Linked DNA regions of Homo sapiens. The protein of the gene in region 1 purifies or fractionates together with the protein of each later gene. This does not show direct contact. Each region holds a gene or a part of one and is shown in the gene's direction. Other genes may lie near its edges.

Evidence for each region. Proteins that work in one complex are often made in the same cells at the same time.
Region 2: the proteins of USP13 (region 1) and CYLD purify together in Homo sapiens (affinity purification with mass spectrometry; one large-scale study listed by BioGRID and IntAct). This does not show direct contact.

The regions. Positions count from the first base shown.
Region 1 is NC_000003.12:179,738,811-179,744,498, forward strand, and holds part of USP13 (ubiquitin carboxyl-terminal hydrolase 13), read left to right. Parts: intron 1-1,436; coding exon 1,437-1,562; intron 1,563-3,386; coding exon 3,387-3,540; intron 3,541-5,688. UniProt on the Homo sapiens protein: Deubiquitinase that mediates deubiquitination of target proteins such as BECN1, MITF, SKP2 and USP10 and is involved in various processes such as autophagy, endoplasmic reticulum-associated degradation (ERAD), cell cycle progression or DNA damage response.
Region 2 is NC_000016.10:50,794,086-50,797,585, forward strand, and holds part of CYLD (ubiquitin carboxyl-terminal hydrolase CYLD), read left to right. Parts: intron 1-126; coding exon 127-343; intron 344-2,238; coding exon 2,239-2,423; 3' UTR 2,424-3,500. UniProt on the Homo sapiens protein: Deubiquitinase that specifically cleaves 'Lys-63'- and linear 'Met-1'-linked polyubiquitin chains and is involved in NF-kappa-B activation and TNF-alpha-induced necroptosis.

The DNA.
Region 1 (5,688 bases):
TAGTGTCAGCATCTAATTTTGTTTTGTTTTGTTTTGTTTTTGGTTGTGGGGGCGGTCTTTGCTCCACTTATTTGCCTCTTTCCACCCGCTGCTGGCCCCTCCATAGTCAAGGGTCAAGGGGATTGGAGATTAGAGAAGTAGGCAGAGTCTTTTCACTTGCCAAGTGCTGGTGGGCTCCCTCTGGGCTGCCACATGTCTCCTGTCATGGCTGGCTTTTTTGTGGGGGAACATTGGTGGTTCTTTAGAGCTGCCTCCCCGCAACTGTTATACCACCCTCAGGGACCTTACAAGGACCTTTCCCTGATGCTCTGTCCAGCTGGCCTCGGCAGCCGTCACCTCCTCCTGCCCTGAGCCTTCTCCACTGGCAGATAGCCTGCCCACTTCTGTAGGGTCCTGCATGGGGCATTTGGCTGCCTTCTGAGCTGTCCTGCTGGTCCCCCACGAAATCCAGCATCCTCGTCCTGCCAGAGTTGCCCTGCTGCCTGTTCTTCCCCCGCAGCCTTTCTAGCAGCTGCAGCCAGGTGAGGGGCAAGCCCTCTACAAGCTCCTGGAACTCCCTGTGCTCTGGTCCAGAAACAGTATGGGGTGGGCTCGTGAGCTTGAGCAGCTCTGCAGTGCTTCACTGGGCCGTGCAATGCCATTTTTCTTTCTTGTAAGTGCTCCATTCTTCAGGAGGGGTCCTCTCCTATACCCTCATGGAAGGGAAGGGGAGATGCTGCAGAGCTCTCCTCTCATTTATTTATTCATTCATTTATTTATTTATTGAGATGGAGTTTTGCTCTTGTCGCCCAGGCTGGAGTGCAATGGTGTGATCTCGGCTCACTGCAACCTTCACCTCCCGGGTTCAAGCGATTTTCCTGCCTCAGTCTCCTGAGTAGCTGGGATTACATGCACACGCCACCATGCCCAGCTAATTTTTTGTATTTTTAATAGAGACAGGGTTTCGCCATGTTGGCCGGGCTGGTCTCAAACTCCTGACCTCAGGTGATCCACCTGCCTCGGCCTCCCAAAATGCTAGGATTACAGGCATGAGCCAACACACCTGGCCTCTCTTTTAACTTCCATCGGAAACCTCTCCTCCCAAGCTTGCTTTGAAATGGGCTGTGACATTTGGTCACTGCGTAGCAAGTCCTGTGAGAATGAGCCGAGTGCCTGACTTTAGAAAGTGAGTACTTTCTAAAGTGTGTGTCACCTATTGTCCTAGTTTTAAGTAAACAGGAAGAGTCTCATCCTGTGTTCTTCATAAGGTTCATAGTGCAGGGCCTGGCACATAGTAAACACCCAGCGAGTATTGGCCACTATCATTATTTACCTTCTTTGGGCTGTAGTTTTCTCATCTGGAAAGTGGAGTTTATGGTGGGTTCTGCTCTGCTTGCCGCTTAGGGCTGTTAATTTGCATGAAAGTATCATAAGTCCATTTCATTTTTATACATTAGCCACAGCAGAACGGGATCTCTCCGCGCATGTTTAAGGCCTTTGTAAGCAAGAGCCACCCGGAATTCTCCTCTAACAGGCAGCAAGATGCCCAGGAATTCTTCTTGCACCTGGTGAATCTAGTAGAGGTGAGTAGTCAGTCTTCACGGATGCTCAGCGGGGTTGTAAGAGGGTGCCGAGCCACTCAGTGCAGTCTGCTGTGGCTTGATCAGAATGCCTCCCCACTCTCTTTCTTCAATCTCTCCTGTTAAAGCTGGTTCAGAATCAGATCCCTGGAAACTCTCTGCTCAGCCAACTTGATGTGACTGCTCTTCACACTCCAGTTTCCAGACACTTGTGGATCTCTGTGCTTCTTTTAACCTGTATGTGTTATAGGAGTGCTTGCCAGTTATTCCATTCACAATTTATTTTTTTCTGGTCTTTGTGACAAAGTTCCTTAAGAGCCCTGCGTGGTATTTGGTGTCCTCCTGCCACTGCTCAAAGATGATGAGTCTGCTTACATCAGAATCGAATGCCATTAAAAACTTTTTTTTTTTTTTTGAGACTGAGTCTAGCTCTGTTGCCCAGGCTAGAGTGCAGTGGCACAATCTTGGCTCACTGCAACCTCTGCCTCCTGGGTTCAAGCAATTCTACTGCCTCAGCCTCCTGAGTAGCTGGGATTATAGGAGCCTGCCACCACGCCCGGCTAATTTTTGTATTTTTAGTAGAGATGGGGTTTCACCATGTTGGTCAGGCTGGTTTTGAACTCCTGACCTTGTGATCCACCCGCCTCGGCCTCCCAAAGTGCTGGGATTACAGGTGTGAGCTGGAAAGCCACTGAGAATTCCTGAGTAAAGCCTTTTTTTTTTTTCCTGGTTACAACAGTGTTCTTTGTGGAAAATATAGAAAACACAAAGGAGAACATCAAAATCCCCCTTAATGCCACGCCCTGCAGCCAGCCAGTGTTTTTTGTTTGTTTGTTTGTTTGTTTGTTTTTGTTTGTTTGTTTTTGACAGAGTCTTGCTCTTGTCGCCCAGGCTGGAGTGCAGTGGCACGATCTTGGCCCACTGCAACCTCCGCCTTGCAGGTTCAAGTGATTCTTCTGTTGTTTGTTTCCTTGTTAGAACTAGGCTGCAGTGGTTTCTCTTGTCTGCCTCAGGGTTACTGATTCACATGTCTGCTCAGGTCCATGATCTTTTCTAACTCTGTTTATCATTTATTAGTGATAACTTTTTTTTTTTAGAATAAAGCCTCCCGAGTAGCTGGGATTATAGGCACCCACTACCATGCCTGGCTAATTTTTTTGTATTTTTAGTAGAGACGGGGTTTCACCATGTTGGCCAGGCTGGTCTCGAACTCCTGACCTCAGATGATCCACCCGCCTCCGCCTCCCAAAGTGCTGGGATTACAGGCATGAGCCACTGTGCCCGGCCAACAGCCAGTGTTCACAGGTTGGCATCTGCCCCTCCCATCACTTTCCAGGTCTTATGTTAATTCTCTACATGCTCTTCTGTAAGCAGTGTTTTCACTTAAATGTTTGCCACATCATCACATCTGTTAACAGAGCATAATTTCTGTTTTATTTGTACCTAATTTACATGAGTGTATTTATATAATCATATTGTACATGTTTTTATGTTTCCAGGGCAGCCCTTTATTTTTTTCCCTTTCTCTTTTGATTGGCTTCTCCTCCTCCTTTCTTCTCATTCCATGAATTTCTCTCCCATGGTTTTTAATTTAATAATATTGAAATAGTAATCCATGATGAACTATATTTTATTTTACCAATCCCCATTTTTGGACTTTAGATAAATTCCAGTGTTTTTCTATTAAAGTGCTTTGGTGAATGGGCATGGCCAGAGGAAATGTTTAATAAAGCCAAGTGTTTACACCGGGTTTAGAGTTCATTTTCTACTAAGTCTTAGTGGCTCAATATTCATACATTTACTAACCTGATACAATCCATCCTTCAGAGGAACCGCATCGGCTCAGAAAACCCAAGCGATGTTTTTCGTTTTTTGGTGGAAGAACGCATTCAGTGCTGTCAGACCCGGAAAGTCCGCTACACGGAGAGGGTGGATTACCTGATGCAGTTACCTGTGGCCATGGAGGCGGCAACCAACAAGGGTAACAATTCCAAAGCGGGAAATTGGTACTGTGTGTCTTCATATGGGAAAACCCTCAAATCAGAGAGAATGGTTTAGTCACTGAAGTGTGTCAGGAGTAGACCCAGCCCAGGTGATGTCTGCTTTGCACATCTCTTTTCATCTCTTTGTTAGTTCCCATGTGACTTTTCCTTTGAGAAGAATCAAATGCATCACAGGTTTTATGGAGGCGTTATGGTTGGAACCTACGTCACTGCCTATAAATTTGGCCAACTACTGAATATGGAGTCAGCATAATTTTGGGGAAAATTATTGGTAATGATGTATGTAGAAAATTCTTTAACACTGTCATTTATAAGTTGTGCTATAAAGTCTGAGGGAAATGATCAGGACTGCATTTTTTAAAGTTAGACATTCGAGCAGAGGTCTCTTGAAATAATCCAGCTTTGGCACATGAGTATTTGAGCCACCTCTTCTGGGAGATAAATTGTGTCAGGGTTCTTTGTAGAAGCAAAGCCCATTAGAAGGGTCTCTGGGCTTTGGAAGAGAGAAGGAGGCAGAGATGTGGCACTCATGTTTGGTGCCTTCTCCTTCCATCAGTCTAAGCTGGTTCTTCCTAGGCAGAATAGACAAATGGCATTTCTTCGAATTAACATCGTAGAAGCAAAAAAGACAAAATAGCTGCTGGATTGTGCATCTCCTGTGAACTAGTCATTTTTGTAAAGTTCAGCAATTCCACTATGCAGCCATGAAAAGGAATGAGATCATGTCCTTTGCACATGGATGAAGCTGGAAGCCCTCATCCTCAGCAAACTAACACAGGAACAGAAACCAAACACCGCATATTCTCACTCATAAGTGCGAGTTGAACATTGAGAACATATGGACACAGGGAGGGGAACATCACACACTGAGGCCTGTTGGTGGGTGGGGGGAAAGGGGAGAGAACTTAGAGGACAGGTCAGTAGGTGCAGCAAACCGCCACGGCACACATATACTTATGTAACAGACCTGCACGTTCTACACATGTATCCTGGAGTTTTTTTGTTTTTTGTTTTTTTTTTTGAGAATAAAGAAAAAAAAATTCAGCGGTTCCCTGGATGGCCCTTTTTGCTCTTTCTTGTGTGTGGGGGGTGGTGGGTCAGTTTATGATGTTAGTTGGAAAGTGATGATTATGATGATTTAAGATGAAACGATTTTCATTTTCTATATGCTCATGCAGTTTTTGATCAGTTTCAAAATCCTTTTGGTGTAGAAACAAGGGAATGGGAGTCTGCTGTTTGTTTCCTTGTTAGAACTAGGCTGCAGTGGTTTCTCTTGTCCGCCTCAGGGTTACTGACTCACGTGTCTGCTCATGTCCATGATCTTTTTTTAACTCTGTTTATCATTTATTAGTGATAACTACTTTTTTTTTTCAGAAAGGAGATTTATAATTTAGTCTCTGGAATTTGACTGTTGGGAACACCTAATGTTAGCAACCTAGATATAAGTACATCATAAACTGATTGGGGACAGGGGAATGAATTTTAAACCATCTAAGATGTGTTTAGGAAAACACATATGTGCGTAAGTGTACCTACAAACTGATAAATAAGGAGTTTTTTTTTTTTTTTTTTTGAGTAATACAAAAGAAATGACCAGAAAGGCCATTCAAATTGACATAAAATTTTGACTACAGGCTAGTTTCCAGGACCAGATCTGCTGGTGCTTGGGAGGTTCCTCTTTTTCCCTTAGTATTTAATCATTTGAGTAGGAATAGCACAGAGGCCTTCTGGGTTGGTAGCCCTGATGTCTGAGGTGTTGGGTAACCTCCACAGGAAGTTGTCTCGGCAGTGTTGGTTACTGTCATGGGTTGTTTGATGGTGGCTAACTGCAGTCCTGTAGTTATCCTCCTCCTTGGCCTCACAGGGACCCATGTGGGACCCATGACCTCTAATCATAGTTGCTGGTGGAACCAAATCAGAAAATGTGTAACACTCGATCTGGCTCTTGCCAGGCGCTTAGTGGTGGTTCTGTTTTTTTTTTTGTTTTGTTTTGTTTTTTTCTGCCTTTGGTTATTTTATTTTAAAACAGCTTAAAGTTAACAAGAATGTTTTTGTTACTTTTGTGTATGTGTGTGTGATCATTGGCAAAAATTGATCCCCTTACACAATGTAACATCTCTTTCTGG
Region 2 (3,500 bases), on another chromosome or scaffold:
CCCAGCTAATTTTTGTATTTTTAACAGAGACAGGGTTTCACCATCTTGATCAGGCTGGTCTTGAACTCCTGACCTCGTGATCCACCAGCCTCGGCCTAATGACATTCTTTTCATGGTCCATTTTAGGTCCACCTTCATCCGAAGAGGCTGAATCATAAATATAACCCAGTGTCACTTCCCAAAGACTTACCCGACTGGGACTGGAGACACGGCTGCATCCCTTGCCAGAATATGGAGTTATTTGCTGTTCTCTGCATAGAAACAAGCCACTATGTTGCTTTTGTGAAGTATGGGAAGGACGATTCTGCCTGGCTCTTCTTTGACAGCATGGCCGATCGGGATGGTACTGAAAACGCCTTTCTTCTGCATGTGGCACAGGGTTCTGGTTTGTAGTGGGACAGTTTGTAGTGGGATCGCCTGTTCTGAGTGATATTTTCTGAGAAAATCCTTTCAGGATTATTCTGGTGACAACAGTCTTATATCTTGGATTGCATTAACAACCTTGCTAGCTGAACTAAGGAATAATATGCTGTGTTTTTTTTTTTCCTTTTTTGAGATGGAGTCTCACTCTGTCACCCAGGCTGGAGTGCAGCAGCGTGATCTTGGCTCATTGCAACCTCCACCTCTCAGGTTCAAGCAATCCTCCCACCTCAGCCTCCTGAGTAGCTGGGACTACACGCATATGCCACCATGCCTGGCTAATTTTTGTATTTTTAGTAGAGATGGGCTTCTGCCATGTTGCCCAAGCTGGTCTCAAATTCCTGGCCTCAAGTGATTAACCCTCCTTTTCCTCTCGATGTGCTGGGATTACAAGAGGAGCCAGTGCACCCAGCCTCATATTGTGATATTTTGACATGCATATGCTCTTTTTTTAAAAAAAAGAATCCTAAAATTCTTATTTCAGCCCTGAGGGATCTTATTTCCAGCTTCGCTGTCTTCTTTCAGGCCCCTCTCATTTTTGTAGGAGCCACGGTAGCTGTTTATTGAGCACCATTAAGTCATTCTACCTAAATCCTGGCAAGATGGGGATTATTCCTGTTTTTCTGTTATTAAAGCTGAGGTTTAAGGGGCTTGAGGTATTGTAGTTTGTGTTTAACTCAGTCTTTCTGATCTCAGTGCATATGTTTTTTTGTACTAAACCATGTTATCTTCCAATTGCCAAAAGCTGAGAGCAGAAGTAAACATCCTTTTCAGAAAAGTAAAGCCTCTTCTGCATGTAGTATCTTTCTCCCTGAAGTGGGGAATAGGCTGCAGTTGCCAGGCCACTTTCTAGGATGCTTAATCATTATTTAACTAATGCTTAATGAATGCCAGGCAGGATAGTGGGTTGTAGGTAAGAAATGTTTGTTAAAGCAGCCCTGCCTCTACCTATAAGGAGTTTGCAGGTTAAGACCAGGCCTGGGCAAGGTTGTGAGGTGTGACTCTCATGTTCCTCCATTCTTATACCCTATTTTTCCTTTAGCTGCTCTCTCAGATCCAGCCCCCACGGCCTTCTGGTGTGGCCCTCCAGTAGCCTAAGACATTCCCTGTGGCAGCCTCTTGAACAGAGGCCCAGGCCCTAGATCAAGAGTTCTCCACCTTTTCTCAGTTCTCTGATGCTTGAGGGATACATCCCAGCCCCATCTGTAGATGTGCCCCCAACCCAGTTAACATTTGCACTAAACAGCGTAACACAACAGCATAGGTTTGGAAAAGCCACTGAGGTAACCCAGAGGAGCCTTTCCTGGAATCTCTGAAATCACACCCCAGAGCACCTTCATCAGGGCCTGGTGATGTGTCAAACAAACTGTATTAGAGTTGCGTAAGGATGTGTTTAAAGTGTAGGGAGCTATAATAGCGTTCATTTGACTAGATCTATTCCAAATTGGACAGTCTTATGGTGAAGTGTGCTGGGTGGCTTGTGTCTGGGAGGAAATGAAATGTGAGGAACAGAGTGTCGTCTACATATGTATTGATAATATGATTCAGAGAGAAGTCTGGAAAGTAGGTTGGGGGCTTACCTCAGAATTCGTGTCCTTTTACCAGGTTTATTCACTGTTGGCCCCAGAATCCTTTCAGAAACCAAGAAATGAGAATATGTCAAGGGTTAAAGGAGGCTTTCACTTCCAGAAATCAGAAGTAAAATAAAGGCTTTTAGAGCCTGAAATTAGCTTTTTGGAAATGATAGGATTATAAAATCACTGGCAAAAGGGTTTAGAACTTGACTGCCCTATAAAGAGTTCTTCCTCTGTGCCATAGGTGGTCAGAATGGCTTCAACATTCCTCAAGTCACCCCATGCCCAGAAGTAGGAGAGTACTTGAAGATGTCTCTGGAAGACCTGCATTCCTTGGACTCCAGGAGAATCCAAGGCTGTGCACGAAGACTGCTTTGTGATGCATATATGTGCATGTACCAGAGTCCAACAATGAGTTTGTACAAATAACTGGGGTCATCGGGAAAGGCAAAGAAACTGAAGGCAGAGTCCTAACGTTGCATCTTATTCGAGCTGGCAGTTCTGTTCACGTCCATTGCCGGCAATGGATGTCTTTGTGGTGATGATCCTTCAGAAAAGGATGCCTCTGTTTAAAAACAAATTGCTTTTGTGTCCCTGAAGTATTTAATAAGAAGCATTTTGCACTCTAGAAAGTATGTTTGTGTTGGTTTTTTAAGAAGTCTAAATGAAGTTATTAATACCTGAAGCTTTAAGTTAAGTGCATTGATCATATGATATTTTTGGAAGCATACAATTTTAATTGTGGAAGTTTAAAGCCTCTTTTAGTCCATTGAGAATGTAAATAAATGTGTCTTCTTTATGGACCAAGGATATGAAATCATTTTTCTTTTGTAGCTAACGGTTGCCTTGAGGAAGAAATAATTTGGTTTTATTAAGAGTCTACTCTCAATCCAGTTATTAGAGATGTACTGAGTTTGATTTGTTAATCCTTTCTATATACTGCTGATCTTGCATGTCTACAATCTGCTCAGTTTTTCTGTGTTTCTGCAATAGTGGTCAGAAAAATACTTAAATTCCCTTAATGGTGTTGTTTTCTATTTGTTCTGGTTTTGAGATAAATGAGTGATTCTGTCCCCAAATGTCCATTTTTGAAGTGATTTTCCTGGAGGATTAGGGTATTTAGCAGTTGAAGCTCTTCATTCATAGTAGTTACTGTCAGCTAACAGGTTTTTTAAGGCTTTTAACTATTAATATTTTATGGAATGGGGCAAAGTAAATTGATGAAAGAATTGGAGTGATAATAGTCCTTTACAAACATACAGTCCATAAGAAAATGAATTTGGCATATAGAATTATTACAATTTCCTGGGAGAGATGGATATTTAAACCTCTATTATTTTAGACAAGACTGTCTAGAACTTAAGTTTGATCTGTCAGCCAGTACTCCCATTAAATTCAGTGTAGTTTCACTTGATAGAATCAGATATGTTATCGAAATGTTAGCAGCAGCTTCATCCTCCTTCTGATTAAAGTAAGTAGAAATGGGATGTTTTGTTTAATAACAGC